4 separate regions of the Homo sapiens genome follow, and regions 1, 2 and 3 are each linked to region 4. The links come from fine-mapping of genetic effects on gene expression. A gene starts in region 4. Each other region holds a variant in brackets. All regions are shown on one strand. Distances are from middle to middle.

Evidence for each region. PIP is the estimated chance that this variant, and not a neighbour inherited with it, causes the effect.
Region 1: its variant is the best candidate, but not a certain one, in a credible set for the expression of STAM in whole blood (INTERVAL, PIP 0.52).
Region 2: its variant is the best candidate, but not a certain one, in a credible set for the expression of STAM in T cells (TOPMed, PIP 0.57).
Region 3: its variant is the best candidate, but not a certain one, in a credible set for the expression of STAM in lung (TOPMed, PIP 0.63).

The regions. Positions count from the first base shown.
Region 1 is chr10:17,684,195-17,692,301 of GRCh38, reverse strand. STAM (signal transducing adaptor molecule) reads right to left here. Exons shown (of 14, transcript NM_003473.4): 3 at 7,552-7,627; 4 at 7,375-7,470; 5 at 4,129-4,275. Among named protein-coding and RNA genes, the nearest start is that of STAM, 44 kb to the right of the region's middle. RefSeq lists an enhancer at 4,979-5,479. The variant TG/G (reference allele first, on the strand shown) is at 4,801.
Region 2 is chr10:17,712,686-17,720,792 of GRCh38, reverse strand. STAM (signal transducing adaptor molecule) reads right to left here. Exons shown (of 14, transcript NM_003473.4): 14 at 3,969-6,250. The coding sequence ends at 6,013. Among named protein-coding and RNA genes, the nearest start is that of TMEM236, 35 kb to the left of the region's middle. The variant G/T (reference allele first, on the strand shown) is at 4,832.
Region 3 is chr10:17,730,213-17,738,319 of GRCh38, reverse strand. No RefSeq gene overlaps it. Among named protein-coding and RNA genes, the nearest start is that of TMEM236, 18 kb to the left of the region's middle. RefSeq lists a silencer at 3,533-3,733. The variant T/C (reference allele first, on the strand shown) is at 3,866.
Region 4 is chr10:17,640,609-17,648,715 of GRCh38, reverse strand. STAM (signal transducing adaptor molecule) reads right to left here and starts at 4,565. Exons shown (of 14, transcript NM_003473.4): 1 at 4,337-4,565. The coding sequence starts at 4,376. STAM-DT (STAM divergent transcript) reads left to right here and starts at 4,798. Exons shown (of 1, transcript NR_110370.1): 1 at 4,798-7,432. RefSeq lists enhancers at 4,551-4,670, 4,821-4,890, 4,313-4,962, 4,963-5,611.

The sequences.
Region 1 (8,107 bases), 44 kb before region 4:
TAATTACACATTCTCTTGTTTGTTATTATGATAACACCTTTAAACAAGGTACTGCGATATGAGTGGTTAAGAATGTAAGTTGTGGAGTCAGACAGACATGAGTTCAAATCCCAGATCTACCACTTTCTAGCTGGATGACACTGGGCAAATTAGCCTCTTGGTGCCTCAAATTCCTCATCAATAAAATGACTACGATAATAGCACCTACACCTCATGGGCACCTCACAGCCTATTTAAAGTATTAAATTAACACATGTGATTCCAAAATCAGATGAGATGGGCTCATTCAGGGTTTAAAACAAAAAGTATGTAACATTACCTCCGGGGCTTATAACGTATGTAGAGGTAATACACATGACAACTACAGTGTAAACAGACCTCTACAGATGCAAAGTTGCTATATTTTACATCAAATATTAACTCAAAGTAGATCATGAAAAGTTATGAATGTATATTGTCATTCCCAGGGCAAACAATTTAAAAATGAAATTCTAAAACACATTCAAATTGCCACATGTACAGCACTTAGAACACTGACTGGAACATTGTAACAGGCAATAATCTCAGCTTCTGTTATAATTGTCTGATTACATGTCTGTCTCCACAACCAGACTGTATGTTCCCTGAGGGAATGTGCCTAAATATTACAAGCAATCAATCAATGTTTGTTGAGGGTATGAAAGGAAAAATATTCAACATTATAATAAAATACAGTTCTACATTCCTCACTTAACTGGATTTCGTGTTGTCAAACAAATGCACAGGCATTTATTTATTTATTTATTTATTTGAGTCTCGCTCTGTCGCCCAGGCTGGAGTACAGTGGCGAGATCTTGGCTCACTGCAAGCTCCGCCTCCCGGGTTCACACCATTCTCCTGCCTCAGCCTCCTGAGTAGCTGGGACTACAGGCACCTGCCACTACGCCTGGCTAATTTTTTGTATTTTTAGTAGAGACAGGTTTTCACCATGTTAGCCAGGATGGTCTCGATCTCCTGACCTCGTGACCCACCCGCCTCGGCCTCCCAAAGTGCTAGGATTACAGGCGTGAGCCACCGCGCCCGGCCAGGCATTTATTTTTAGAAGAGCTGAGAAGAAAAAAACTTTTTGGTGTTCACAGAATACAACTTTAAACACTCTCAATTCTGACCTATCTCTAGTTGCAATTTTCTTTAGATAATGTTTTAATTATCAGACACTTCTGAAAACTACAGGTATGCCTGGTCAGAAATAAGTTTTACGGTTTACATAAATTTTTGTTCACAATTTGGCAAACTTCACAATTAGACAGATTTGAACTTTTATGGTGTGTGAAGAAATCTCTACCAGTAGAGAAGCGCAGAAATAAGCTATGTGAAGCCGCATGTTTCTGAACTGCACTTTTTATTCAAAGTTCCTTTCTATCATCAGGTTCTAAATGTAACAATAACACTTGTCTTATTAAGCAGCCAACTACGGTAGCGGTGCTGCTAGCCTACTTCTATCTTTACATCAAAAGTTAGTGCTAACAGAACTGCATCAGTATGAGTCAGGTGACTTTATCACTTTTCTTAATATTTTTACATTATTTTCTTCTGTACTCAGATGAAAAAAATATACTTAGAAAAATATATCTTCAGAGGTTTTTGTTAAGTATGCCCTAACAAAAATCTAGTCTGATGAAAACACAGTAATAACTTAAGTAACTAAGTGGCTTTAAAATCTACAGGGAGTTCTGCAGTTGAACTTAGATGATTTATTTTTTTCATTTAATGTGAAGCTCTTTACATGTAGGGTTTCTAATAAGCTTTTCAGAAACCACTAAAAAAATCATTCTACCTCATCATATTTTACTTTATATGTATTTCTTGTAGGTGAAATATAGCCACTATGACAAGATTAGCTGTTACATACTTTATAACATCTAGATCAAAGGATGAAAATTAAGTCCTATCTTTACTATTGCTCTTCTATGTCCTGAATTTCTTGAACAAGAGAATAAGCTAGTTTCTCTACCAATCAAGACATAATGCTCTTGCCAGCATTCACTCCACTGGAAGCCTGGTCTAGACAGACACATATTCACTAACCTCTCTAACAAAGAAGGCAGACTCGGGCAGCGAAAAGAACACTGGACTGAGAATCAGCATGCCTGTGTTCTAGTTCCAGCTGTCAACTATGAGCTGTGTCCCTGGGCAAGTCACTTAACCATTCTGAGTCTCAGTTTCCTCATCTGTAAAAATGAGCGGATTAGATTAGAGGCTCCCTAAAACTGTTTCCGTGGCTAAGATTCTAGATTAACCAAACAAGGGTACATATGGCACAATCATTAATTCTTCCTTTTCTTACAAGAGTAAGTCCCTTTGTGGACTGAAACGCAGTTTTCACTTGCACTGAAGGCTGTCCTCTAGAGCAGCAGTGCTTCTCAGACCTCAACGTGCATATAAATCCTCTGAAGATCTTGTTAAAATGGAGATAATGAACCCATAGGTCTGGAGTGGGTTCAACCATGCTGCATTTCTAACAAGCCTCCAGGTAATGCCAGTGATGCTGGTCAAACCAAGTTTTGAGTTAACAAGAACCAAAGACTCTAGATATTTAGTGGGCTTGCATTTTCTCTACCTATTCTAGGTGGGTTCTCTGCAGTGAGTCTACTCTTTGATAAATAAACATTGTTTCTGTTGTCAAGGAATGTATAATGTCTTGGATTATTCTGTTTAAGATTTTTCCTTAATTATACAGATTCTAGAAACTATACTGAGTAGTAAAAACCAGCTATCAGTTATGAATGAATGAATTTTCAAAGACATAATTTTTTTAAGAAAATTTTAAACCAAAATTTTTTTAAGAAGAAGAATGTCCTTTGCTTCCTTCCTCTCCCAGATACATTTTTGAGTCTTCACATCTCAAGAGTGCTCAGATAAACTGGAAATGCCTTGGGAAGAAAGCACATGTAGGTCTGGATGAATGTAGATAAGCTACATGACTCCCTGAAGTGGTCAAAACATAAGCCCCTCCACACTCACAGATTTCTGTTCATGGTTTCACATCACTCATTACAGTCTGTCCCAGTCAATAAACTGGGGAAAGACAGTGTAGTAAATCAGCACATATTTTAAGCCTCTTGATTAGTTGGGCATCCTAAAGGAAGGTTACCCAAAATAGAAATAGGAATAAAAAAGACATTTCTTGATTTTTTTCTACATGACATAAATTAGAGACTGAATTTTTTTGGCACAAGGGTGGACAGGAGAGCAAAGTTAAGCTATTTAGCCATATCCACTGGGGAAAGGAAGACTTATGTACTGGTCGGCTCTTACTAAGGAGAAAATGCTTCAGGTGCTTCTCTTCCCATTTACCCCTTCTAAAGTCCTCTCATTGTTAATAGAGGAATTCATAAATTTCCTCCACAAAAGAATCTCTCAAGTCATCCCTAACTTTTAAGGATATCCTGATTTCTGAGCTATCATTCTTTGTAGAAAATTATAGCATTAAGAGCATTTAAAAAGACAGTGTTACCTAATTAATAAAGCTATTTTGTGTATATTATTAAAACTGTACTGGCTGGGCCTGGTGGCTCACACCTGTAATCCTAGCACTTTGGGAGGCCGAGGCGGGCAGAACACCTGAGGTCAGGAGTTCGAAACCAGCCTGGCCAACATGGTGAAACCCACCTCTATTTAAAAAAAAAAAAAATTTCCAGGTCTGGCTGCACGTGCATGTAGTCCCAGCTACTCAGGAGGCTGCGGCAGGAGAATCACCTGAACCCAGGAGGCAGAGGTGGCAGTGAGCCGAGATCACGCTACTGCACTCTACCCAGGGCGACAAACAAAGACTCCGTCTCAAAAACAAACAAACAAAAACTATACCAAAAAATTTCAAAAACTGCAAAATGTTAAACCAATTCGTTTATAAAGAAGTAGAGAGGTTAGAGCACATTAATATTCCATTATAATACTTTTCTGGCACCTCTGAATGCCAGAAAACTAGTATTACTAACTAGCAATACAACTAGTTACTAACACAATTAGCTAACGAAAATTCCTCTGAAGTAGTAAAAATTACCTGGGAATGAAGAAAAAAATTCAAATAAATATAGCTATTTAAGAGAAACAAACTGTAGCACACACACAACTTCATTCCCAAAATACCTGAGAGCCAATAGCTGGGAACGTAACTCCTTGTTCCTTAAGGTTCTTAATCATTGCTGATATTAGACTAAGCTGTGGATCATTCTTAAATTCATCTGTCCATTCAACCATAAGAGCCTTTAATTTTTCACATACTTTAGGATGACCCTGTAAAATAGAAAAAGAAATAAAAGAGCACCAATTTCCTAGCCAATGATTTAATACAGACATTTTAAATAGTAAAGTTATTAAGTGATGTTTTTTGAATCACAAGTTATGCATAGCTATAGACAAGAAAATATAGTTATTCGAAATAAAACTAATGTTCACACTATGAAAAAACCCATCATATATATCTCACTTCAAATTAAAGCATTAAATAGGTAATAAGATTTTGGAGATCTGAAAGGACTTTTCAGAATATTTTGCAACGAAGCAAGGTTTGTACATCAGTAAGACAAGGAAAAGTGTCTGCTTTTTGCAAAGCAATAAAAAAGTGGGAAGGAGAGAATAAATGATACAGTTCCTTTATTCCAAATTCCTGACTTCTTAATGTTCATGACTATGCATTTTTTCCATGATGCTTAATTATCTGGGGCCTAGTTTGAGGTACACTGCATGTTAATCATTTTGAAAATTTAATTTCTTCAAAATAACATAACTTTTTTTCCTTTCTTTTCTTTTCTTTTTTTT[TG/G]GTTTGTTTTTTGAGACAGAGTCTCACCCTGTGGCAGAAGCCGGACTGCAGTGGCTCGATCTCAGCACACTGCAACCTCCGCCTCCCAGAGGGGGGTGGGGGATGCGGTTCAAGCGATTCTCTTGTGTCAACCTCCCGAGTAGGATTACAGGCGCGCACCACCATGCCCAGCTAATTTTTGTACTTTTAGCAGACGCGGGGTTTTACCATGTTGGCCAGGCTGGTCTTGAACTCCTGACCCCAACTGATTCGCCCGCCTCAGCCTCCCAAAGTGCTGCGATTACAGGCATGAGCCACCGTGCCCAGCCCAAAATAACATAACTCTTTATGGTTGATGTATAACAAAGATTCAAGTTAGTCTAAGGCAGGTGTGCAGGGCATTATTCTTCCGTATTAAAGAAAGAGATAAATGTAGTGAGTTTTCAAAATAAATTATTTTACTCATTGCTTATTAAGGGAAAAAACCTGGCCAGTTCATTAAAATACTGATGTATCTTCATAGCGGCAATAATTTGAAGTCTTACTATTTGATGTAATAGATATAAAGAAACCTTCACAGATACCAGAGAAGAAATAACTCCTCTATGAAATGTCATGAATGTATTTCAAACCAATGCTTACTAAATAATTGGCTAAAGCTTTTAAAAATGGAGAAGGTTAGACTTTTAGATTACTCTATTAGAAGAAAAAAAATTCTTTCTAAGTGCACATGTAATCTGTATTTTGGTCAAGGAGCATATAATGGATTTGCAAACGCTTTATTGAGACTATACATGAACTTAATTTGTTTAATAAAAGGAAATTTTTTAAAAGGGCAGGATGTTGGCTGGGCGCGGTGGCTCATGCCTGTAATCCCAGCACTTTGGAAGGCCGAGGTGGGCAATCACAAGGTCAGGAGTTCGAGACTGGCCTGACCATCCCCATGGTGAAACCCCATCTCTGCTAACACTACAAAAACCAGCCAGGCGTGGTGGCGCATGCCTGTATTCCCAGCTACTCAGGAGGCTGAGGCAGGAGAATCACTTGAACCCGGGAGGCAGAGGCTATAGTCAGCTGAGATCACGCCACTGTACTCCAGCCTGGGTGACAAAGAGAGACACTGTCTCAAAAAAAAAAAAAAAAGGCGGGATGTTATTAAGTACAAAACCAATATGTTCACTGTAAAACATTCAGAAAATAAAGAGAAGTCCTCTTGCCTATAGGAAGTCGTTTTTGGAAATGGCTGCTTGCACTATTATACATAGGTAAGTATACCACATTTTTCACCTACATTACAAAAAACATGGTATTAGAATCTCTTCATAAACAGTTGTAATCTCGATGGACATTCAGGACATTAAAAGACAATGTTTATTAATTAGTAGAAAATAAATATTAACTGCATAAAGCAGGAAAGGGAAAGAATTATCATTTAACCATGATGTTCGAAAAGTACAGAATTTTACATTCTTACTATATTTCTATACTGCTATTTTTCTACTGTAACCTGGAACTATTCATTTTTCCCAAAAACATGAGGCATTTTCCCTTTTAACATACAAAAACTTTTTCTTGATTTACAGTACTCCCCCTAAAAAGGCCAAAAATAATTACTTTTAGAATGCACAAATTTTTACTGGGGAAACTCACATATTACTAATTGAAAATTGAAAAATTTCTTGAACTGTGTGACTAGAATTCTACAGTTGAGTGGGCAGTTGTAGGGTCCCCAGTTCTCCCTGCTTTCTTTCTGTGTCCCAATAGAAAAACAGAGTGCCTTGTCCCGCTCTGTGACCTAGCCAGCTGCATGTTTTCCACCATAGGTTTGGACCCAAACTGGGGCCTTGAACATTCTCAGGCACTGATAAAGTTGTTCAGGTTGTGGCCCAAAACACTAAAAGATCAAGTATGTTGCTAAACACACAGAAACCAGCCCCAACCCTGAGCCAAATTCCTTAAACCCTCCTATAAACTGCAGCCCTCCTGTGTAAGTTCCCCTAATAAATCCTTTAGACTGATCACCCTGGCATTTAGTGCCTCTTTTTTTGGACTCTCATCTGGCCCTATCTGGAACAGTTTGGGGCAGTCCCTTGTGGAAACTCCCCCGCCACCACTTTTGAGGCAACTCCAGCTGTGGGTTCAGCCAGTAAGAATAGCAGTATAGTATTAAAATCCTGTGATGGCCAGGAAGCAGCCTTATTGATAAAGATAAAAACTCAACGGTGCCATAGACTTTTTGCAGTGTTTCTGAAAGGTTTTCCATTAGGAAAATACCTTGTGCCTACAAAAACAGTATGTAAAATAGACTGATATTATTTAATTAGATATAGAAATACCTGTTTTCTTATCAGATGAAAGTATGATGGAAAAGAACAGGTTAAAAACACTCTAATATGGCTTGAAAAAACTAACTCAAAGTTACATGAATCCGCAGTCTCTTCAACAAAACATAATATTTATTTATATACTGGATAGACACAGCCTAGAAAGGATTTCTTAAAAAGCACAGAATAGTCCTCTGTGAAGATTTAAACAATAAAATATGTGAAGAAAGAAGACTGCCTTAATTAATTTCTGGAAATAATGCTCCTTACCTTATTTAATACGTTGCTTACTTCACTAGCAAAATCTCTTGAACATACTTCTAAATGAAAAATTTTGCCACAGTTTGATACACATGCTCCTAGAAGCTAAAAGCACAAAATCAGAAGTTAAAGGGGCTCAATTGTGGCAGGTAATTTCGTGGTACAGATTAAAATGAAACCACTCACAGTCAAAGCCTGCATAGCAACGTGAGGATCTTTGTGGTTCACTCTTCTCATAATAGACCGAAGACAATCCTTAGGTCTAAAAAAATGAGAAAAGTAAAAATTACTTAATAATACATCTAGCTTCCCCCTGCCCCTTAACTGTTATAGACAAAAGACTACGATAAAAAGGGAGACTATGATAAAGTAGGGAAATTTAATTTTTATTAATAACACGGTTGAAAAACTGTAAACTAGTTCCTTTAAATTTTTCAAACAAAATTAACAGGCTCTCTTATTAGTAATCGTAGATGAGGCATTTCAGGCTAATTCTGGGTAGGAAAAAAAAAAAGGTTTGAAAATAAAATGGTAGGCCATGACTTCCACTTCCAGCCAGGGTGGAAAAACAGACCAGACTTACACTCCCGTTGTAAACAATTAGAAAACTGGAAAAACAGATTTTCCACACTGAGGTTAACTTTTTAAAGACATGAGGCCACAGGCAGTACTGAATGATAATATCCAAGAAGGAAAATGAATTAGATAAGCCAGAAGTTTGCCTCAACTTTCTGCCTAGAGG
Region 2 (8,107 bases), 72 kb before region 4:
CAATTAAAAGACACAGACTGGCAAATTGGATAAAGAGTCAAGACCCATCAGTGTGCTGTATTCAGGAAACCCATCTCACGTGCAGAGACACACATAGGCTCAAAATAAAAGGATGGAGGAAGATCTACCAAGCAAATGGAAAACAAAAAAAGGCAGGGGTTGCAATCCTAGTCTCTGATAAAACAGACTTTCAACCAACAAAGATCAAAAGAGACAAAGAAGGCCATTACATAATGGTAAAGGGATCAATTCAACAAGAAGAGCTAACTATCCTAAATATATATGCACCCAATACAGGAGCACCCAGATTCATAAAGCAAGTCCTGAGTGACCTACAAAGAGACTTAGACTCCCACACATTAATAATGGGAGACTTTAACACCCCACTGTCAACATTAGACAGATCAACGAGACAGAAAGTTAACAAGGATAACCAGGAATTGAACTCAGCTCTGCACCAAGCGGACCTAATAGACATCTACAGAACCCTCCACCCCAAATCAACAGAATATACATTTTTTTCAGCACCACACCAAACCTATTCCAAAATTGACCACATACTTGGAAGTAAAGCTCTCCTCGCCAAATGTAAAAGAACAGAAATTATAACAAACTGTCTCTCAGACCACGGTGCAATCAAACTAGAACTCAGGATTAAGAAACTCACTCAAAACCGCTCAACTACATAGAAACTGAACAACCTGCTCCTGAATGACTACTGGGTACATAACGAAATGAAGGCAGAAATAAAGATGTTCTTTGGAACCAACGAGAACAAAGACACAACGTACCAGAATCTCTGGGACACATTCAAACCAGTGTGTAGAGGGAAATTGATAGCACTAAAAGCCCACAAGAGAAAGCAGGAAAGATCCAAAATTGACACCCTAACATCACAATTAAAAGAACTAGAAAAGCAAGAGCAAACACATTCAAAAGCTAGCAGAAGGCAAGAAATAACTAAAATCAGAGGAGAACTCAAGGAAATAGAGACACAAAAAACCCTTCAAAAAATTAATGAATCTAGGAGCTGGTTTTTTGAATGGATCAACCAAATTGATAGACCACTAGCAAGACTAATAAAGAAGGAAAGAGAGAAGAATCAAATAGATGCAATAAAAAATGATAAAGGGGATATCACCACCAATCCCACAGAAATACAAACTACCATCAGAGAATACTACAAACACCTCTACGCAAATAAACTAGAAAATCTAGAAGAAATGGATAAATTCCTCAACACATACACCCTCCCAAGACTAAACCAGGAAGAAGTTGAATCTCTGAATAAACCAGTAACAGGCTCTGAAATTCTGGCAATAATCAATAGCTTACCAACCAAAAAGAGTCCAGGACCAGATGGATTCACAGCCGAATTCTACCCGAGGTACAAGGAGAAACTGGTACCATTCCTTCTGAAACTACTCCAATCAATAGAAAAAGAGGAAATCCTCCCTAACTCATTTTATGAGGCCAGCATCATCCTGATACCAAAGACTGGCAGAGACACAACCAAAAAAAGAGAATTTTAGACCAATATCCTTGATGAACATTAATGCAAAAATCCTCAATAAAATACTGGCAAACCGAATCCGGCAGCACATCAAAAAGCTTATCCACCATGATCAAGTGGGCTTCATCCCTGGGATGCAAGGCTGGTTCAATATATGCAAATCAATAAATGTAATCCAGCATATAAACAGAACCAAAGACAAAAACCACATGATTATCTCAATAGATGCAGAAAAGGCCTTTGACAAAATTCAACAACCCTTCATGCTAAAAACTCTCAATAAATTAGGTATCGATGGGAAGTATCTCAAAATAATAAGAGCTATCTATGACAAACCCACAGCTAATATCATACTGAATGGGCAAAAACTGGAAGCATTCCCTTTGAAAACAGGCACAAGACAGGGATGCCCTCTCTCATCACTCCTATTCAACATAGTGTTGGAAGTTCTGGCCAGAGCAATTAGGCAGGAGAAGGAAATAAAGGGTATTCAATTAGGAAAAGAAGAAGTCAAATTGTCCCTGTTTGCAGATGGCATGATTGTATATCTAGAAAACCCCATTGTCTCAGCCCAAAATCTCCTTAAGCTGATAAGCAACTTCAGCAAAGTCTCAGGATACAAAATCAGTGTACAAAAATTACAAGCATTCTTATACACCAATAACAGACAAACGGAGAGCCAAATCATGAGTGAACTCCCATTCACAATTGCTTCAAAGAGAATAAAATACCTAGGAATCCAACTTACAAGGGATGTGAAGGACCTCTTCAAGGAGAACTACAAACCACTGCTCAAGGAAATAAAAGAGGATACAAAGAAATGGAAGAACATTCCAAGCTCATGGGTAGGAAGAATCAATATCGTGAAAATGGCCATACTGCCCAAGGTAATTTATAGATTCAATGCCATCCCCATCAAGCTACCAATGACTTTCTTCACAGAATTGGAAAAAACTACTTTAAAGTTTATATGGAACCAAAAAAGAGCCCGCATCGCCAAGTCAATACTAAGCCAAAAGAACAAAGCTGGAGGCATCACGCTACCTGACTTCAAACTATACTACAAGGCTACAGTAACCAAAGCAGCATGGTACTGGTACCAAAACAGAGATACAGATCAATGGAACAGAACAGAGCCCCCAGAAATAATGTCGCATATCTACAACTATCTGATCTTTGACAAACCTGAGAAAAACAAGCAATGGGGAAAGGATTCCCTATTTAATAAATGGTGCCGGGAAAACTGGCTAGCCATATGTAGAAAGCTGAAACTGGATCCCTTCCTTATACCTTATACAAAAATTAATTCAAGATGGATTAAAGACTTAAACGTTAGACCTAAAACCATAAGAACCTTAGAAGAAAACCTAGGCATTACCATTCAGGACACAGGCATGGGCAATTTCCATAATTTTTATAGTTGCATAGTTTATCGTGTAGGGTGCTAATTTGTCTCACATCAACTTGAAGCTTCGGAAAAAACATGTCTTCAAACTGAATTATACATATCGCATAGGAAAGCTGTATGTATCAGAGAAAAAAGACACTGGTCTATTAAGCATTTTAAATACAAAAACTATGAGGTATAGAAACAAAGCACCAGAAGTACATGAAAAAAGGAATCTTAGGCACATAAAAAGTTCCCTCGCTGCATAGGGAAGATAGGTAACAGTGAAGGAGAAAGACGGAGTTAGAAGAGGCTGTAAAGTCACATTAGGTATGCATTAGAAATCCTCTTACAGGTTCAGGGCACTGGTATAACATCACAGGCCATGGGCCTGTTGGCTATATATGCTAGTTCGTAACTGGATTAGATTTTTTCCATTTACGTGTCACTATTTTACGGAAAACCAATCTCAAATTTTATTTTTTAAAAAAAGAGAAATAGAATTTGCTTCACAGCAGTTTACATTACAGTTATTTATTTCTCACTCTGTCTCCCAGGCTGGAATGCAGTGGCGTGATCTCGTCTCACTGCAACCTCCGTCTCCCAGGTTCAAGCAATTCTCTCGCCTCAGCCTCCTGAGTAGCTGGGATTACCAGGTGCCTGCCACCACGCCCAGCTAATTTTTGTAGTTTTGTAAAGACGGGGTTTCACCATGTTGGTCAGACTGGTCTCGAACTCCTGACCTCAAATGATCCGCCCGCCACGGCCTCCCAAAGTGCTGGGATTACAGGTGTGACCCACTGCGTCCAGCCTATGTTACAGCTAGTTCATTTTATAAATTATTCTATTCCTTCAAAATAAGGACAGCTATTAATGAAAGATTTCTTGAAAGTGCAAGACCTGCAGGTTTCAGAACTTAAAGTCATTCATGATCCTAACTGGCCCCCTCCTATTTCTACCCTCGTCTTGTCATTTGAAAGACAAGCCAGTGCTTCACTTTCATTGGATTTTTTCCCCCTGGTATTTTCATTTTTAATAATGGGAAGGCATAAACTAACACAGTAACAGTTTTAAAGTACTCATCATTTAAACCTTTATAAGGCTAGTAATGTAAAAGGTAAAGAAAAATGTATATGGGTTGTAATAAGGGTAGTTTTTTCTATTCACTGTTACTTGACTTTTATAGGGCAAAAATCATAGTAGAGACTATGTCATTGATTTTCAGCATGAAAGATATCAAAATTAAAATGGGAAAATGATACATTTAACATTGGTAAACAGGAATTTATCAAAAGACAAAGAAAAATTGCAGAAAAGTATATCAGTTAAACCATAATACTCAAATTGGAGTGGAAAAGATTATAATCCGACAGATATTTATCAAAAACTAACTTATAGTATTTAAAATGTGAAATTTGACTTCAGGGCAGGGCAACATATTTTAAACACAGGAAATCAGAACACAACACTTGAGCGAAACACTTAAGTTACCCTTAAGTAATCTTACAGGTGACTAATTTCACAGGCTCAGATTTAAAACTACGGTGCTTTAAATCTGAGTCTGTGAAATTAGTCACCCTTAAGATTACTGGCTAAAGATTTAATCTTCTCTCAAAAAGAAAATAAACAAGCTACCTGATTACAACAGTCTTAGAAAATAAAAATGAAATTTTCATTTATAGTATGAAACCTGTTACATCAATTCATTAAATATGATGTTCGACTCAACTTTTCCGTTGTTTAAATAGTGCTAAAATAATAGTATAGCCCAACCAGGGAAATCGTAAATATTTAAGATTACAATGTCAGTGGAAAACATTTTTCGCATGAATTAAAAGAAAAGCATTCATTTGAAAATATTCCCAAGTAAGAAGCCAAAATAATTCCATTAGAATTTTAAAAGGCCAGAAAGAGCAACCCAAAAATCCAGT[G/T]TGAAAGAAAACAATACCTATATAAACGTTAAGCAAAGCCAGGAATGTAGATTACTTTGAAACATCTACTTATTTCCATTTTAATGAAGAATTAAAGGATACAATGTGTTAAAGACATATTTAAAATACTAGCAAGGGATTAGACAGACGAATCAAATTTTGTTGATATCCCAAATAATTACAAGAGACTTCGAAAATGTAGTGTAATTCAGGTTTTCTTTCCAGTTTAAAAATTTCTATCCATTGCCTCTATCTTTGGTGTCACTGCCACCAATAAACACAGTATACAGCTTAGAAACCTAATTACTATCTTCAACTAGGAAAAGGTAAACCAACATCATTTCTTTAAAATGAGAAATAAAGAATGTGATCGTACTTAATTTTGTCTCATGGTCCCACAATACTCTGAAATGTCATGCCAAAATGTAAAAGTTCAAAAGGGAACATTATCATTTGCTATAATTGCACCAAAAATTTAGCTACTGTACGCTGGTGTGATGACAGCCAGTAGTATGCAGAGGCTACAGAAAGACATGTAGATATATATATATACACACACATATATATATATATCTCTTTAGCTCACAATTAGTAAAAGGTTCAGTTTAATGTGAAACTGAAACACACGACAACATAATGCGCCTTCATGTAAATACGCTAACAACTTTGTTTTCTTGAAGTTTAAAAGGATAGTATAATTACCTTAAATTTACACAAAACATTAAGAAACATGGTAGTTGTTTATGATTAAAATAAAATAGCAACGTAAATTAATTTAACACAGTGTTAAATATATTCACACGATCACCACTGTGATTCAAAATGGCCACTAATGCAGTTACATATCAATATATGTACATAACATTTGTCACAACAGTTTTTGTAAGTTTGACTTTCTGCAGACCAGGTTTACGAGACAAATAGCCTTGTATCAATTCTTTCATATTATGAAAGGAATTAAATGTTGTAAGTAGTTTCATTCCTCTGCAGGGGCGGGGGGGGAAGAACCTCTAAAAAGTCAGTGTAAATTGAGGAGAGTTCTACCTTCTTGAATATTTGAACCTGTTGACCTGGAGAGATTCCTATAAGCTGAGGATAAACACATCTTAAGATAGTAATGAATCTCATAACATTGTCAGTGGCATTTAGCAGGTATCTGCCACCAAGAGGAACACCGGGTCCTATAGCAGAGCCTTCTGAGAATATGGTTGCTGTGGCTGAGGTGGCTGTTGGCTGCCTCCGGGCTGAGGCAGAGTTGATGATGTTAAGTTATAGTTTGGCACCTGGGGCATATTAGGTCCTGCATTCTGGTACAGAGTGACATCGGCAGTTGCAGCAGCAGCAGTAGCGGCAGGAGGAGGACTATATACTGGCGCCTGGCTGGGATATGTGTTTCCTTGAACGGAACTGACCATTGTACTGTGGAGGAAGAAAAACACTCAATTACATCAATACTGATTTATAGAGCAACTACAGATAAATGGAAAAGCTATTTACTAAGCATTCATTCATATAGTCAATTCATTTAATAACCTTTTACTAAACAGCTATAATGTGCCAAACATTGTTATTTTAGGCTTTGTGATATCAGGCATTGCATTAAAAATATGTGTGTTATTTAACCATTGTGTAAAAAAAGTTGGGGGGGGTGGTTTGCGGAAATAAGTCTATACCACCATGGAGCGTCTGTTCTAGTGGTAGAAAAGGGTAACAAACACATGTATCGTGTGTCAAGTGGTTCTAACTGGTAAGAACAAAAACAAAGCCCAATACGGAGGACAAAGAGCAGCTGGGGCAAGGGATTCTAGTTTATGGTAGGGTGCCTCTCCAATAAGGCAATACTTAAGCAAAGATGTGGAAAAAGTAAGCGAGTGAGCCAGATAGATTCCCTAGGAAAGTACATTTCAGGTAAACAGAAAGAAGCCTTTGAGGAGAGAAAACACCAAGCATGTTCAAGGAACAGCAGGCCACGAGTGCTGCGGCAGAGGGGGCCGCAGGGGGTGCCGAGGGGAGAGCAGCTAAGATCACCGGCAGGACTGCGGTGGTGGGGAGGGGGCTGGAGAACACACAGCACCTGATGGCCACAATAAGGACTGTAGCTTACACTCTGAGTGAGACAGAAAGACACTGGCTCGTTCTGAGCAGAAGCGTGATAAGATTCCACAGGGTTTAACGGGCTCCCTCTGGACCAGGATAGCTGACTGCAGGTTATTACGATCCACCAGGAGAGAGCCGACCAGCAGAAGAGCCACGGCAGTAATGGTGGAGATGGGAGAAAGGGTCAGAGTCTAGATAGATTTTGAAGATAATGCCTTCAAAATATGATAATGAACAGAAGAGTCCAGAATGCCTGAGGTTTAGAACCTAAAAACTGGTAGAAATAACTGGTAGAGTGGCCATTCACTGATTTTCAGAATACTATGATGGGACCATAGTAGACTCGGGGGTGGGAGGGGTGTGGGGAAGATCAAAGTAATAATCTTGGATCTGTCAAGTTTGATGTCCAAAAAACTGGCAAGCAAAGAGAATGCATAGGCAGTCAGCTATTCAAGCCTGTTGTCCTGCATAGGCAATCAGCTATTCAAGCCTGCTGTCCTGTGGGGAAGTACGGAGGAGAAATACGCATCTGGGAATCCTCGGCAGATCCACGGCATTCAGAATCACCGGGCTTCATGAGGTCCCCTGGGGAGCGGCTGCAAACAGAGAAAAAGGCAGTCCATCTACTGTGCACTGGACCTTGAAGTCCAGAAGATAAAGAGGCAAGAGGCAAATGAGGCTGAGAAGAAGTGGCGGTGAGGCAGAAGGGAAAAGAGAATGGTCACCAGCAAGTGAAGAAAGCATTTCAGAAAAGAGGAGGGAATCACGAACTGTCAAATGGAGGAGGAGGAGAATGGTGAACTGACCGGGAGTCTAGCAGTATGGGCATCACCAGGGTTCTTGACAAGAACGGTCCCAAAGGACTAGTGGAAGGGAAGGCCTCATAACCTCATTTCTTTTATTTCCTTGAAAATACGGAAGCACACGCTCCAACACCACACTGATCAACTCTCTGCAGCTGCACCCCTCACGTACTGAGCTTCCCTACCGCTCCCACCGCTCCGCTGCCAGTACTCCCATCTCAAGTCCCTGCACTTGTGCACTGCTCCCATTAAAAAAAGAAAGAAAAAAATTCTTCAAAGGGTTGTCTTTATCCACTGCCTCTACTTCCTGTCTTCCTGTTTCCAACGGAATACATGCGTTTCCACTGTAAGACACTAGGTTAGCTATGTGAAGAGA
Region 3 (8,107 bases), 90 kb before region 4:
TGTTTCCCAAACTAGTGTGACCTAAGGACTCCTGCGGGGGTGGGGAGGCACCTGCTAATTATAGCTTTCCAGTCCCATCCCAGATTGACTCAATCAGAATCTGCAGGCAAAAGGCCTGGGAATCTGTATTTTACCAAGTACCCCTCTGATGTCGTTTGGAAAATAGAGGACTTGGGCATCTTTAAAATCCATATGTCAGGTTAAACATTTCACAACTCCCGGATTTTTATGGGCCTATTTCTATTGGTAAAGGCCTGCAGTACTCTATTTCTTGAGGGTTGCTAGGAAAATGGCCCCTCAGGGGCTCACTTCTGATGCTTTCAGAAGACGTGGCTCTGAAGTTCCCTGCATCTAATTCTCTTCTCCGGAAAATTCAAATTGAACCATTTTAAAAATCTTGATCCACATTATAATTCATTATGTGAATCTCTAACAGAAAATTAAGACATAAAGGCAACAGCTACCCCTTGTCTAGCATACGGCCTATAGCATGACCATCCTTCTAATTCTGCGGAGAAACATCAGCCCCTGCTCTTTAATTGTTGAGAAAACCCAGAATGGTCCACATATTAAGGAAATAAAATTGTAAAAATCGGTGCATTCCAGATGTCATGAGAAAACAGTGAATCATAAATGAACTGTCCTGCAGCGTTATGTTTTTTCCCAAATAATCTGTCTGAAGTCTAGATCATCTTCCGTTAAATGGCTAATTTGGATTTTTCAAGAGTCAATCTCAGCAGCGCCACCTACTGATAATTTAAATTCAGTACTTTATGTAAATTCTTAGCAATGTACACAGCAAATTAACTCGAAAGAACCTAGAACATGTTTTGGGTTTTCATAAAATAATAGGCATGGTAATATAACTGCCAGAGGAAAAATTTAATGTTTTTGCAGGTGGTGAGCTAGACAATGCCTGCTTCAATTGAGTATGTCTCCAGCATGCTGGCTCTCCTCCACTTCTCTCCCTGTCCTCAATATTTCCCCATCACTCTGTATTCGAGTTGGGTTTGGCCAGTGAGAGGACTGGCAGGAGGCCAAAGGGCAGCAGGAGAAGCGAGGGTGTTGATTCCCTTGTCCCTCTTTCCCACTCACTGTGCCAGTTTCAGCTCTGTCAGTCCATCCCTCCTCCTAGGCCCAGCAATCACTGTACACACTTGCCGCTGAACGCTTGCTCCTTTGGGCCCAGGGTGGTGACAGTTGAGGGTGTCTGTTCCCTTGGCCTTCAGTAAGTAGTTCTTTCAGAAAAGCCTGTCCCCTGAAGCTCCTGAGTGTGATTCTCCAGGGCTCTGGAGACCCAGCTTGCATACGGTGAAGTGGAACTGGCCACCCACTCAACATTTATAAAGTGAATATTGCAAAAATGATTGCTCCTGGTGTAATAGCAGATAATAAAGATTCCATTATTTTCTGCGAGAAGCTTAAATTTACACACATGAAGGGGATTAGGGTTGACAAAAACCATTTTTAAGGGATGTGATTCAGCATAACTACTTAAATTTCTATACACAATTTTATTAATCTTAGGTATTGAATAGGTAGAACTTTGGACCAAGTATGTCTCTATAGTTCCCCGCAGAAGTCTGACCTAGTTTACTACCATCAGGTTAGAACGCTAAGGTTTATTTAAACAATCTTAAATAAGCAAACTAAAAACCTGGAACCAATTCTTTAACCTACACTTAATGTAGACTTCCACATTCTAATGAGACATTCTTACATGCAAATGCTTAATCTGGAGTCCTCCTGTGGGACACGCACACACACATGGAGAGAGAAAAATACAAAATTCTCCATTAGTGCAAGACCCTGGAGAACAAGGACCTGATTCATTCTCCCCTGTGGCCTCCAGCATTCTCAGGAGGGGCTTCCCACACAGCAGAGACTGAATCAATTGTTCAGTGACAAGATGGGAGACAGCACACCATGGCGGACACAAGCACAAAGGTTGCCTAGGTTTGTACCCCAGCTATGCCACCTGCTGGATGAACTTGGGCAAATAATTAATCTCTCTGTGCCTCAGTCTCCTCACCTATGGCAGGGGGTTATTAGTATCATCCTAGTTTCAATGAGTTATTTGAAAAGCACTTAGACTGGTGCCTGTCCCATAGTAAGGACAAGATAAGAGCATGTTGAATAAATAAAGGGATGGTATTTTTCACATCACCTGGAGCCACTGTAGCTGGAAGGGCCTTTAAGAGAGATATAATTTTTTCATTTTATTTTATTTATTTAAATATTTATTTATTTATTTATTTTTGAGATGGAGTTTCACTCTTGTTGCCCAGGCTGGAGTGCAATGGCATGATCTTGGCTCACTGCAACCTTCGCCGCCCAGGTTCAAGCAATTCTTCTGCCTCAGCCTCCTGAATAGCTGGGATTATAGGCACGCACCACCATGCCTGGCTAATTTCTGTATTTTTTTTTTTTTTTTTTTTTTAGTATAGGCAGGGTTTCACCACATTGGCCAGGCTGGTCTTGAACTCCTGACCTCAGGCGATCCACCGCCTCAGCCTCCCAAAGTGCTGCGATTACAGGCACGAGCCACCATAGCCAGCCAATTTTCTCATTTTAGAGATAAGACTGAGGCCTAGAAAAGGTGAATTCAGTAAGCCGCTGCGAAAGGTGTGATCAGCTCACTCCTAGGAAGATCTGCTTGTTGATACACATATTTTATAAATCAATGGGAATAATTTTATCCGACAAAACAAAAATCCCTGCCCCTGACCCTAGGGAATGAAAAAACATGGGCTTCCACCCCTATTCTGGGAAAGGTTTAGTCATAAGTGGATTAACTTTTGTTCCACAAGAAACGACTTTTTGACTTTATTATTACTATCCAACACAACTGTCAAGACCTATGAAGGCAAGCTGAAAAGTCAGCCGGCCACAGTTCCCGGAATGCTGACAGAAGGCACAGAGGCATGGCTCCAAGACAAAGAACTACGCTACTCACAGCGTTAGCAGGAGCCAGAGTATCATTTCCTGTGCCAGTTCCTCAAGCACAGGGAAGATAAGAAGGGCAAGTGACAAGGGCAAAGGCAGTGAGCTGCAGAACAAAACAGGAGCCCTGAGCTCCATCTCTCAGTCTTTCATCACGGTCAGCCTGCCTGCGCTTTGCTCTAAAGAGAGACACTAACTCCATCTTCCAAGGATGTAAACAAACCTGTCCCTTGCTCCAGAAGGAGACGCTATGTGTATCTCCCAAGGTTGTGTGCCATACAAATATCCTGGAAAAGACGGCCTAGAAAAAGCACTGTCATTTTCTCTGCTTGCAAGATGTGCAAGAACTATGGAGGATTATCTCCCAACCATTTCTACCTTTCGCTTCTACATCATTAAGTTTTTGGCAAATTTTTCCATGCATACGCCGATCCGTCAGCCACTATGATTAATCTGTCTGACAGAGGCTGGGGCCCAATCTGTTCCATGGCACATTTAATTAAAACTACCACCAACACACTGCAAGCAGTAGGATAAGGCCAACTTCAACCATGCCCCAGTGGCCTGGACTCAGCCACTTAACTCTCACAAACAATGAGTCTACCTTCAAAAATCAGATGGACCTGAACTTCCTCTCCCTGAAGCAGACCAACGTAGGATGAAAGTAATCATCACCAAGGACAGTCAGCTAATCAGCACCAAAGCCGCATCAGTCAGCATCTGAGAAACAGCTTATTCACGGGACCAGGATACTTAAGTGACACCAACTAAGATTCACTCTCATCAGCAGATTTCCCTTTGGCTAGATTACCTTTTTATCACCTCCCAACATTTTTTTGTTTTGTTTTGAGATGGAGTCTTGCTCTGTCACTCATGCTGGAGTACAGTGGTGTGATCTTGGCTCACTGCAACGTCCACCTCC[T/C]GAGTTCAAGAGATTCTCCTGCCTTAGCCTCCCGAGTAGCTGGGATTACAGGTGTGCACCACTGCACCCGGCTAATTTTTGTATTTTTAGTAGTGTCGGGGTTTCACCATGTTGGCCAAGCTGGTCTTGAACTCCTGGCCTCAGGTGATCCTCCCGCTTCGGCCTGCCAAACTGCTGGGATTCCAGGCGTGAGCCACCATGCCCAGCCTTCCTCCCAACTATTTTAGGTTTGGGAGTACATATGCAGTTTTGTTACATGAGTAAATTGTGTCAGGGGTTTGGTGTACATTATTTCATCACCTGGGTGGTGAGCACAGTATCTAATGGGTAGTTTTTCGGTCCTCACCCTCCTCCCATCCTGCACCGTCCTTTTGCTGGATTTCCATAGTTCTCCATGTGCCCCAACCCTTCCGGGCCACGTGTTTTCTATTGCTGCATAACAAATTACTACACATTTAGTGGCTTAAAACCACCTACACTGATTATCTCACAGTTTCTGTGGGCCAGGAATCTGGACAGGGCTTAGCTGAGTCCTCTTCAAGGCTGCGATCAAAGTGTTGGCCAGGGCTGGGTTCTCCTCTGGAGGCTCGTCTTGGGAAGGGTCTGCTTCCAAGCTCAGCCTGCCGGCAAAAGCATGACGTAATGTCAGCAAGGAGTGATGGCCCATCGCATTTGCCATAGTCTATTGGTTTTCAGCAAGACACATGTCCTGCCCATACTCAAAGAAAGGGAATTAAATAAGGGTCTGAACGTCACAAGGAAGGGCTCATGGGGACACACTCCAGAGTCTGTCTGCCACAGACACATTCTTTAGAATCATGACCAGGTCCTAGAAGCCACAGTCCAGTACTGTCCAGGAGAAACAGAACATCAACCATGTGTGGAATGTTAAATTTTCTAGCACCCATATTAAAAAACAGTGAAAAATACATACACTACCATACTATTCTATGGATGCAATGGTTACCATGAAATATAGTCCCACCAAAACAGCTTATGAAATAGCTTACACTGCTGGTTTTTAAGTTTAAATTAATTCAAATGAAATCAGATTTAAAATTCAGTCCCTCAATTGCACCAGCCCATTCCAAGTGCTCAACAGTCCAAATGAACAGTGAGGTCTTAGATCCACCCTCTCTTTAAAGCAGGAGGCAATGCTTCAAATATCCCCTGGGTCAGGCAAAAGAGTGGTGACAAGATGATCTCCTTGACCTCCTAAACCTCTTCTCAGGCTTCGATCTTGGCCACCGTCCTTGCCAGGCCTGCACAGCCCAGTTTTAGCAAGAATCCTGCTAGGTCAGTTTAGAGAGAAGCCCTCCTGCCTTGAGATCTCATCAAATCCCTCGTCCTCCACCCTGGCTATCTGATCACCCTGGCCTGCTCTTAGCAAGAATCCTCTCTATCCCCGAGGTCTCCTCTTAGTGATTTTCCAACCATGAACTACTCCCCTCCACCCTTGGCTGTAAGTCCCCATCTGTCTTTACTGTATTCCACTGAGCCCAGTTCTGGACGCAAGTCTCTTTTCCCTATTGCAATAGTTTCTGTATAAAATCTCTCAGGCCGGGCGTAGTGGCCCACGCCTGTAATCCCAACACTTTGGGAGGCTGAGGCAGGCGGATCACCTGAGGTTGGGAGTTTGAGGCCAGCCTGTCGAACATGGAGAAACCCCACCTCTAGTAAAAATACAAAATTAGCTGGACGTGGTGGCACATGCCTGTAATCCCAGCTACTCAGGAGGCTCAGGCAGGAGAATCGCTTGAACCCGGGAGGCAGAAGTTGCAGTGAGCCGAGATGGTGCCATTGCACTCCAGCCTGGGCAACAAGAGCGAAACTCCATCTCAAAAAAATAATAATAAATGTCTCTTTACTGCTTCAATAAGAGTCCATCTCTGATTCTCCCCAACAGTTGGGAGGGCTCAGTAGCAAACTGGAGACAGCATGGATAGTTGTGGGAACACAGGCCTCACGTTGTTAGATCTGGGATTTTTCTTTTCTTTTCTTTTCTTTTTTTTGAGACAGTCTCACTCTGTCGCCCAGGCTGGAGTGCAGTGGCGCTATCTCGGCTCACTGCAAGCTCCGCCCCCCGGGTTCATGCCATTCTCCTGCCTCAGCCTCCCGAGTAGCTGTGACTACAGGTGCCAGTCACCATGCCCGGCTAATTTTTTGTAGTTTTAGTAGAGAGGGGGTTTCACCGTGTTTGCCAGGATGGTCTCGATCTCCTGACCTCGTGATCTGCCCACCTAGGCCTCCTAAAGTGCTGGGATTACAGGCGTGAGCCACCGCGCCCGGCCTAGATCTGGGATTTTTCAAGGAGCCAAAAGTCTGTATTTTTGGTGGGAAATCACGTAGACATAAAATATCATCTATTCAAAAAACATTTTTTAACTCTCTGCAGGCCAAATAAAACATGTCAGACTGATCTGGCTAAGCCAGCAGAGTTTAACCTCAGCTTTAAGGTACCCATCTCCTACTTTGGTTCCTTCTCTACTATTTTGTCAATTTGAATCACACAGAGTGATCTTATTTCCTGAAAGTTTTGGGGAGCTACAGCACTGCAGTCTTTAAGAAATGACCACACACAGGGAGAATCCCCCAGGACCAAGGCCTCTCCTGGGCAGTGGGCGTTCCTCTTCCCCAGCCTGCCCCATGCCATCCCACCTATCCTTGCTTCCTATTTCACTCAAGGGACAGTTTGACAGGGAAGCAGGAAAGCAGAAGATCTCTTTTCTCATCAGGATCTTTCCCAACTCATAAATGTCCAGAAGAAAACAGAATATATTTTCCTGATTAGTTATACTCATTCTTTTCTATATTTGCATCTTCCCCCAGTTAAGAATGAAAAGCAAGACAGGGCAAACGTTTACCTAGTTTACCTTGGTGCTTCCTACAGCAGAATTAAGATAAAACATGCCATAAAACTGATGGAATCATAAGGAAATGGAAATCATAATGAAATGAACGTTGACTTTGAAACCCTGGGAGAGCATTACAATGAAAAGATTGTTTAATGAGGCATTTAGAGGCGAGGAAAATGACCACCTTCCTTTCCCCTGTCCCCCTCCCCACCAAGGGCCCTGCTCCAGTAACTGGTTGCTCAGCTGCCTCTAAGGATGGGTGTTGGGCTTCGGATTCCTCAGGTGGATATACAAGGTGTAGCCTCTCAGAAAAAAAAAAAAAAAAAAACAAATTTAAGGATTATCATGATAAACAGGTATCAAATCAGCCTGCCTAGGGCCTCTATCCGTTACAGTTCAGCCTTCAATCCACTGGAAAACCACAAAGAGTTGCTTCAGGGAGAGAACAGGAGGAGCTGAGAAATTGTCTTTAGTCTTTCCATGGATCAGGTAAAGCTGTCAAAGTGGAAAGAAGGCAGGTAGATTTATCTCTGGGACTCCCAAAAAAGGATGACAGCATACTGGCCTAGACGAGGTATTCTGAGGGTAGCGATGAGAAGCCCCACCGCTTCTGGGGAGGTGGAGGAGCCTCAGAACCCACGGATGGCTACCAGGAGATGTGCCCCTGGCAGTCTCCCTTGGACTTGGTGTGCCTTCCTACAAAGCACTCACGGGGTATGAGCCAGACATACCAGTAACACTACGCTACATTCTGGTTATATCATAGATTAAATGGGGTTTGGACCCCAGCCCGGCATCCCAGTCACCAAATTCAGCATTGTTCTAAAATGTTTCCTAGAACTTACTATGTTACAAATGAGCTTGTGGAACACGTAAATGAGGGAAGACTTGTGCAAAAGATCTTCTAACATAGTGTAACAATTAAATTTTAACACTAGAGTGGGCTCATTGCTGTTTCCTTATTGTTCATTTTTCAGTAAGTTTACATGTTGATATCAAAATGAACTTGTAAAAAGTCCTGGATTCAAGTTTTCTGATTTCTAAAGGTACTTAAATATTTAAATAAATGCCTGACATATTTAGTGCTATGAAATGTAAAACTTAAGAAGGCAGTTAGTGTATCTTAAAAATAGTGTAAACACTTAAGCAAATGAAGACCAAACCATCAACAGTTAATAAACAAAAATAAATTAAGGACATAATGGCTGTGACCACTTATCTCAAAAAGTGATGTTTATCCTTAATTTTCTTTTCTTTCCCTGTTTTTTTGGGAGAGGCAGGATTGTAGGGCATATAATTTCTCACAGGCTTTATGTGTTTTGTGTTTTCTTACCGGGTTTACAGGGCATTTAATTTCCCACAGATTTTAAGCATTTTAAGCAAAACA
Region 4 (8,107 bases):
AAACCTACCAGAAGGCTCTTGCCACTGACTATAAGAGATAACAATGACTGAAGTAAGGTAAGAATGGTGAGACAGAAAAAGGTGATGATGTGTCCGGAGTTTGTTCCCTCTGGTGGGTTTGTGGTCTCGCTGACGTCAAGAATGAAGCCACGGACCTTTGTGGTGAGTGTTACAGCTCTTAAAGGTAGCACGGACCCAAAGAGTGAGCAGCACCAAGATTTATTGTGCAGAGTGAAAGAACAAAGCTTCCACAGCATGGAAGGGGACCCGAGCCGGTTGCTGCTGCTGGCTAGGGTGCCCAGCTTTTATTCTCTTATTTGTCCCCGCCCATGTCCTGCTGATTGGTTCATTTTACAGAGTGCTAATTGGTCCATTTTACAAACCTCTAGCTAGCTACAGAGCACTGATTGGTGCATTTTACAAACCTCCAGCTAGCTACAGAGCACTGATTGGTGCGTTTTTACAGAGCACTGATCGGTGCATTTTACAATCCCCTTGTAAGACCGAAAAGTTCTCCAAGTCCCCACTTGACCCAGGAAGTCCAGCTAGTTTCACCTGTCAATGAAATTCTGGATATATTTTTAAAGTACAGCCAAAATATCTTGCTGATAGGATGAATGTGAAGTGTGAAGAAATAAGAAGAATCAGTGATACTCCTAGACATTGGAGCTCAGTGACAGGAAACAGTAATCATGTTGTCGTCTACTGAGAAGGGCAAGGATGAAGGAATGAGCAGGTTTGGGCAAAGAACTAAGAATTGAGTTTTTGAATGTTTGTTTTTAGACTCTAAGCAGAATCCAAATGGAGATGCTCAGTAAGGAGATGGATATCTAGGTCGAGAGCTCAGGCAAGAGGCTGAGAGTAAGAACATAAATCCAGGAGTCACCAGAATACGCTAGGTATTTAAAGCTAAGAAATTAGATGAGGTTCTTTTTAAAATCTTACTTAATAAAAAGTACAGAAATTTTTCTAAGTGCTTTACAAATATTAACTCAACCCTCTTAACAACTCTCTGAGGTAAGAACTATTATTACTCTTATATTCCATATTAAAGATAAGGAAACTGAGACACAGATTATCTAAGCAACTAGGCCAAAAATCACACTACCGGTAAGCAGCAAACCTGGGACTGAATCCAAGCAGTGTGGCCCCAGTCTGAATTCTTAACACTAAGCTAAATTGCTTCCTAATACTCTAAGGGAAAAAAAAAAGTGGAAGGAGAGAAGAGGCTCCGGAACTGAGCCGCAGGGCACTCAACTTTTAGAAGTTGCAAAAAGGGGAAGCAAAAAAATTTAAAAGGAGCTAAGTAGAAAATGAGAAAAAGTTTGGTGTCCTGAAATCCCATGAATAAAATACTGTATATCAAAGAGGAATGCTTAAGAGATCAAAAAAGAAATGGACTAGAAAGTGACCATTGGATTTGGCAAGGTGGAAGTCACTAGAGACTTTGAAATACAAACTTGATGAAATAAGTTATCTTTACGTTTCTTCTAAATTCAGCTCTTGAATTATAATGTCCAAAATGAGATTCATTTATTCCATAAATGTTTACTGAAAGTTCTTCAGCATGCCAAAAACTGGTCTACAGCTAGGGATACGGCAGTGAAAAAATCAAACAAAAATCCCTGTCCTCACAGAGCTCACATTCTAGTAACATCTTTCGGTGTTTCTTCCAAGGGAAAAGCTATCACCAGCATTGTGTCTCTTTATAAAAAATGTTATATTATATAAATCAGTCAGTGAATTTCTGATTCAGCCTCAGATTAAGACTGAAGACAATTAATTTTGAAGATGTGCAAATGTATACGAGTGTTAAGTGATAAATAACTGTATCAAATGAGTTACTTTAATGTTATGACATATTCATTGGTAGATATGGTGAAAGAAAAAATTGTTAAGTGTATTCTATACACTGTATTCTATATGTTATACTATTAAAAAATAATATGAGTCTACTGGACTCTGTGCAAGGCTTATGTACTGGGAATCTCTGAGGGGTCTTCTTAGATAAACCTTTTGTAATATTTCAATACAAGGATTGTGAGAAGAGAATTGGTCCAATACCAAAACCTGAGCAACTTTAAAAAGTAAGCTTTTCTGGAGCAAAACAATGTTGCTACACTGAAGAAGTATAATGTCTGGCAGGCTCAACTGACACATTCTCAACTCAACAAACATTATTAAACACCTCCTATGTAGCAACCTCTCATTAAGGAGTATAAAACTATCTTGAATGCTAAATAATTCGGTAAAGGCAAAAATGCTAAAATAAGTTAGAGGATTTTGTAAGAAGGTGGAAATTAGAGTGGACTAGTGCAGCGGTTCTCAACTGGGAGGTATTTTGTCCTTCCAGGGGGCATTTAGCAATGTCCTGAGACTTCTAAAATCATGAGTGGGGGCTGGGTGTCACCGGCATCTAGTGGATAAAGGCCAGGGATAAGGCTGAACACCCTACATTGCACAGGACAAACTCCTATGACAAAGATATTTACCTGGCCCAAACCGTCAATAACGTTGCTACTGAGAAACCCTTTGCTACAGTAATCAGGAAATGACTCAGGTGTAACAAGTTGGATTCTGAGTTGGCCTTAACACACAAGGATATGTTGAAAGATAAAAGAAAGCATAAGCGTAGGACAAAAGCATAAAGGCAAGAAGGTGCCTGTGTTTGAACTGGGTGGTACAGCTACTAGGAACGGGTTTGACATTAAGAAATTTACCTGAATCCAATGCAAATATGTGTTCACAAAGTCAGTAGAATATAAAGGTGATTGGGTAGTTGCTAGCTAAATTATACAGGACCAAGAAAACTAGACAAAGGTGCTGTAAACAGAAGAAGCAAGTATTAAGAAGCTGTTTTAAGTATTTCCCCTAGAGATTCATGTAGTGAGATGTAAAACTGCTTGAGAACAGCAACTAGGCCTTGCTCATCACTGTATCTCTTATGTCACTGAGCTGCTGTGTCCTGTAGTGTGTGCTAACTGCTTATTAAATTAAATGCAATTTTCCAATTCATTAAGTATAATCGGTGATCTCCAAGGTTCTGTCCACTGCTAAGATTCAGGACACTCATTTAAGGTGGAACAAAAAAGGTAGCATCTAGTAAGTGCCAACCACATAAAGGTACTGTAGCAGGCCCTCTAGACATATTATTTAACTGCAGAATGGAATGATGTGTTTTCCCCTCTTTAAAGACAAGAACACTGGAACTCAAAGAATTTAACTTGCCTATGATTTCACCGTGAGCTGAGAAGTGGCAGAGGTAAGGAGTGAACTTTTTTCTACTCTTATATAAACTTCCAAGTTTCAGTGACATGCTCTAAGGAAGAGTTTAAAAAGAAAAATTCAACATCCACCTTTCATAATTAAAATACACAAAGACAAGTAAATTCATAAGGTTGTCCTTATTCACAGTAATGATTACATTCTGCCATAAGGGATTTGGAAATGGTATTTGGCTTGCTTTCATTCCACACTTGTGTGCCAAGGTAGTTCCTACGTGCGTTCAAATTAAACCAAAATTCTCTCCCCGGAAACTCAAATTCCCATAATTATTATCTTCAAGTCAGAAAAAAATAAAATAAAATAAAATTAAAAACCAAAAGCAAACCTATTGAATTGACATCATCAGTACCTAATACCAGTGATTCAGAAAACAACAAAAATGTAGCATTTCAAACTCTTTCCAGATTCAACAACTTCTTCCACACTTCTTTACACCTTTTAAAGTGCAGAGACCTAGCCTAAGAGAGACATCCCAAAGGCTCAGGTCCTCAATTCGGTTTCAGTCGTTGCCAAGTATTTCATCTTCATCGCTCCTAACATGTTTGAGAGTCTACCCTTAACCAGAGCTCCCTCCTTCAGTTACCGTTACAAAAGATTTTAAAATCCTCTAAGGAACCTTACCTAAAACATTCTGCCAGTTCCAGACGCTCAACATTTATTTGTCTAGGCAAGCACTTTTGGTACAGGGTTTACAATCCTAATCTAGCCAACATACGCCTTAAGCCCTTCGCTGTTCTTCCAGAAGCACAGTCCCTGCACCAGATGCTACACCAGCTGCTCCTCCCAGGCCCTTTACACCAACCCATTCAGCAGTTCTTTGGCAACCTACAGTCCTAGCTCAAGGCCCATTTCACAGGATGAGTCCCATTTCTTTCAAAGAGGATGCGCCAAGCCCTCAACCTCCTCCCAGCTCTGAAGGAGGGAGCCTCAGGAAAGGGGAAGAGCGAGCTCTTCCTTGGCCCTGGCCCGAGGGTCCTGAATGCAGGCAGGGGCTGGCAGAGTGAGCGTGCAGTCCGGTGAGGAATGGGCAGGGAGAGGCAAAAACACTTACCAACATCCTGATCGAAGGGATTGGTGGCAAAAAGAGGCATCTCCGCTGCGTGCCGAGGTGTCCCCGGGGACTCCCTCTCGACAGCACGGGAGTCAGAGCTCGACGTAGGATGGAAGACTCCTCAGGCAAAAAGAGCAACAGAGACCGACTCTACAGGGTCCGCGACAGCTCCTCCTCTCACCCAACCCCACCAACCGCGGCAGCAGCTGCGGCGGCGGCAACAGCAAGGAGCCGAGGAAGCCCCCGCGCGGAGCTTGTCGGGAATCTGGGCGACCTTGGCGCTGCCTGTCTCAAAGCTGCCCCGAGCCTGCCCCATCGGTAAAGGCTGAACAGGGAGTCCCCTCTGCCTGACTCCTCTTTTAATTAGTCACACATAAGAGTGGAATTAGTTCTTGTGTTTTCTGCTTTTCCCTTGGCTAGGAGTCTCCGTAGGACGGGGTCCTTCAGGCGTGCTGAAGCCTACTAACAACCCCAGGAGTGACTGGGAGAGCCAGGAGAAAGAAAGCAGGTTGAGTTCGGGTCGAGCTGTGCGCCTTTTTTCCTCTCGCTCTCTCGGTTATCATAACCTTGTATTCCCTCTGGAAGGAAATGGAAATTCCTTTGGATCATCTTCTAGGTAAACAGTTTAATTAGCTGCGTGAGGTGACAAACTTGCTCGGATGAAGTCATGGGAGCTGAACGAATTGGCCTGAATCCCAAGAGGGGAGTGTTCAGGGCGCGCGTGTCCCTCGGAGAGGCTGAGGTAACGCTGGCTCCTTCCCGGGAGTCCCTGAACGCCCGGCTTTGGAATCTGCAGACAGCTCTTCTAGCAGGGCGTTGGCACCTACTGACTAACCGTGCAATCACTCAGCAGCTGTGATGGTTGGTGACATGTCTTTCACAGCCCAAGATAGCCTCCCTAGACTGAGCAAAAAAAAGAAAACAGAAAAAAACTGGAGCTAAAAGTTGATCAGTGAGTGATTCCTAGCAACCCAAAATGTTGGTTTATTTATTTTACTTATAAGTTTAGTTAACCAATAAAAATTATTCTCTGTGTGATGGAGAAGTTTTAAGGAGCATCTACTAGAGATGTTGCGTCCCACTTGGAACAAACTTAGTAAGCACATCTTGTACGTAAATGGAAATTATCCCGCAAATTACGGCATCTCCAAATGTAGCGTGGAAACTAATATTGACATGTCAACACAGGATTAATACATAGTAATCAAAGAGTGCTTAAAAATTCATTAAAAATGAAGTCCCACCTCTAAAAGTGAAATGTGCAAATTAAAGTAGCAGTTAGATAATGTTTTGTCATTTAGGTAAAAATTACAAAGAATCGGCCGGGCGCGGTGGCTCACGCCTGTAATCCCAGCACTCTGGGAGGCCGAGGCCGGCAGATCACCTGAGGTCAGGAGTTCAAGACCAGCCTGGCCATGGTGAAACCCCGTCTCTACTAAAAGTACAAAAAATTAGCCGGGCGTGGTGGTGCGCGCTTGTAATCCCAGCTATTCGGGAGGCTGAGGCTGGGAATCGTTTGAACCCGGGAGCGAAACTCCGTCTCAAAAAAAGAAAAAAATTGCAAAGAATCAGGGATGTGAGGAGTCAGACACTCACATACTGTTGGATGAAGTGTAAATACTGTATAATCTTCCTAAGGGAAATATTTGGAAGCATGTAAAAAAATTTTTAAAACCTTAGGACCCAGCAATTCCATTTCGGCAAATTAATCCTAAAGACATTCTTTTAAAACATGAACAAAGGTATACATGGCAACATTGTCTAAAGGATCAAAGCATTGCCAGCCATTAAATGTCCCACATTGAGTGATTGGACAAATTGCTTCACCTCTTGGTGTCTCAGTTTCCTCATGTGTAAGAAACAGGAATAATAGGGTTGTGAGGATCAAATGAATTAGTACAAGCAAAACGCTTATTACAGTGCCTGGCATAGAGTAAGCACTAAATAAGTGTAACTGATCACTGTAATTTACACTGGTCAGTTAAATCATAGTACATAAGATGTGAAAACTACACAGCCATTTAAGGTGCATAATACAGATTCATATTTACATAGACATCTGAATACACAAGTTTTCAGAAGGAAGTTACAAACCTTATAAAATTACAAATGCCCACAATTTTAAAAATCTGAAAGGAAATACATGAGAATATTATGACATGATTGTCTCTGAGTGGCAAGATTCTAGACAATGTTTTTGTTCTTTGTGCATTTTATTATTCAAAATATTTTAATGATGAGCGTGTATTCCTTTCAAAAGCAGAAAAAATGTTAAAATACAACAATGTCAAAAATGGTATGTTGGTACCACCAGTTTCTTAATGTTTTGAAGGGCCAATACCAAAAGCGTGCTTGTGTTTCATTATGACAAGTATAGAATTATTCGGAAATATCACGACTGATACGGAAGTCAGAACATTCCCTCTCAAAAATGTGCTTTGATTGCTGGGCTGACAGAATTAGGTGACAACTTGTTTACCTTAAGATCCTGAGCAGTGTCTTGGGCCATTATCATAAGTGCCTGAGCCAGATATTGGTGGCTCAGACTGGGTGTATCAGAGCCAGATATTGATGAAAATGCATTTGTACATGTTCTGTACTCCGGACTGAATTACTCTGTTGCCAGCAATAAGCCAGGGCACAAACTGTTCAAGCCTTGATTATCAATATGTGTGCACTGGGAGTAATACATACTAGTATTGAGAGCAGTATCCGTGCATTCTGACCTAGAATGACTTTAGCTGTGGGGGCAGGGGGGTCTCGATGATTAATGTGCTGTATAAATAATAAACATTTTTTAAATATAAAATTTTTAATATTTAACTTAAAAGACAAACATAAAAAGTGAAATGCTTTGTATTTTGTGGTTAACGTCCCTTATTATCCCTTTAAAATACTGAAATTCTATGAGTTTCACTTTTAGTATTACCACAGTTTTTAAAACGTTTTGAAGACTACATATCAATGGCATATTAAAATGTTTCTGTAATGTTGTATGTTTAATAAATTCTGTGGTTGTTTGTTAAATGTTATATCCCTTTATTCTCAGTTTGATTTTGAAAATTCATCTACATTAAAAACAAAAATACTGGCCAAGTGTGGTGGCTCATGCCTGTAATCCTAGCACTTTGGGAGGCTGAGGCAGGTGGATCATCTGAGGTCAGGAGTTTGAGACCAGCCTGGCCAACATGGCGAAACTCGGTCTCTACCAAAAATACAAAAACTTAGCTGGGCGTGGTGGTGGGCAGCTGTAATCCCAGCTACTCAGGAGGATGAGGCAGGAGAATCGCTTGAACCTGGGGTATGGAGGTTGCAGTGAGCCGAGATCGGGCCACTTCACTCCAGCCTGGGCGACAGAGAGAGACTCTGTCTCAAAAAACAAAAAAAACAAACAAAAAAACAAAACAAAAAACAAAAAACTGGTGTGCAAATAGAGTTACTACACGAAAAAGTCTATAATTTTCAAATTCAGGAAAAAGAATATCCTAGGAAGGTTTTTAACAGTTTAATAATTCCAGCCCAAGTAGGAATGATTACTATTTCTCAGTCTTTCCTCTTCCTCTGCATTGTCACTACTTTAGTTTATACCCTCATCTCTTAGGCAAGTTACTACATTCACCTCCTGCTGTCTTTTCTCCTTTCCTACAGCTGTGGACTGAATTGTATCCTCAAAAATACAAATATTGAAGCCCTTATGCCCAATGTGATGGTATTTGGAGACAGAATCTTTGGGAGATAATTAGAGTTAGATGAGGTCATGAGGCTGCGGCC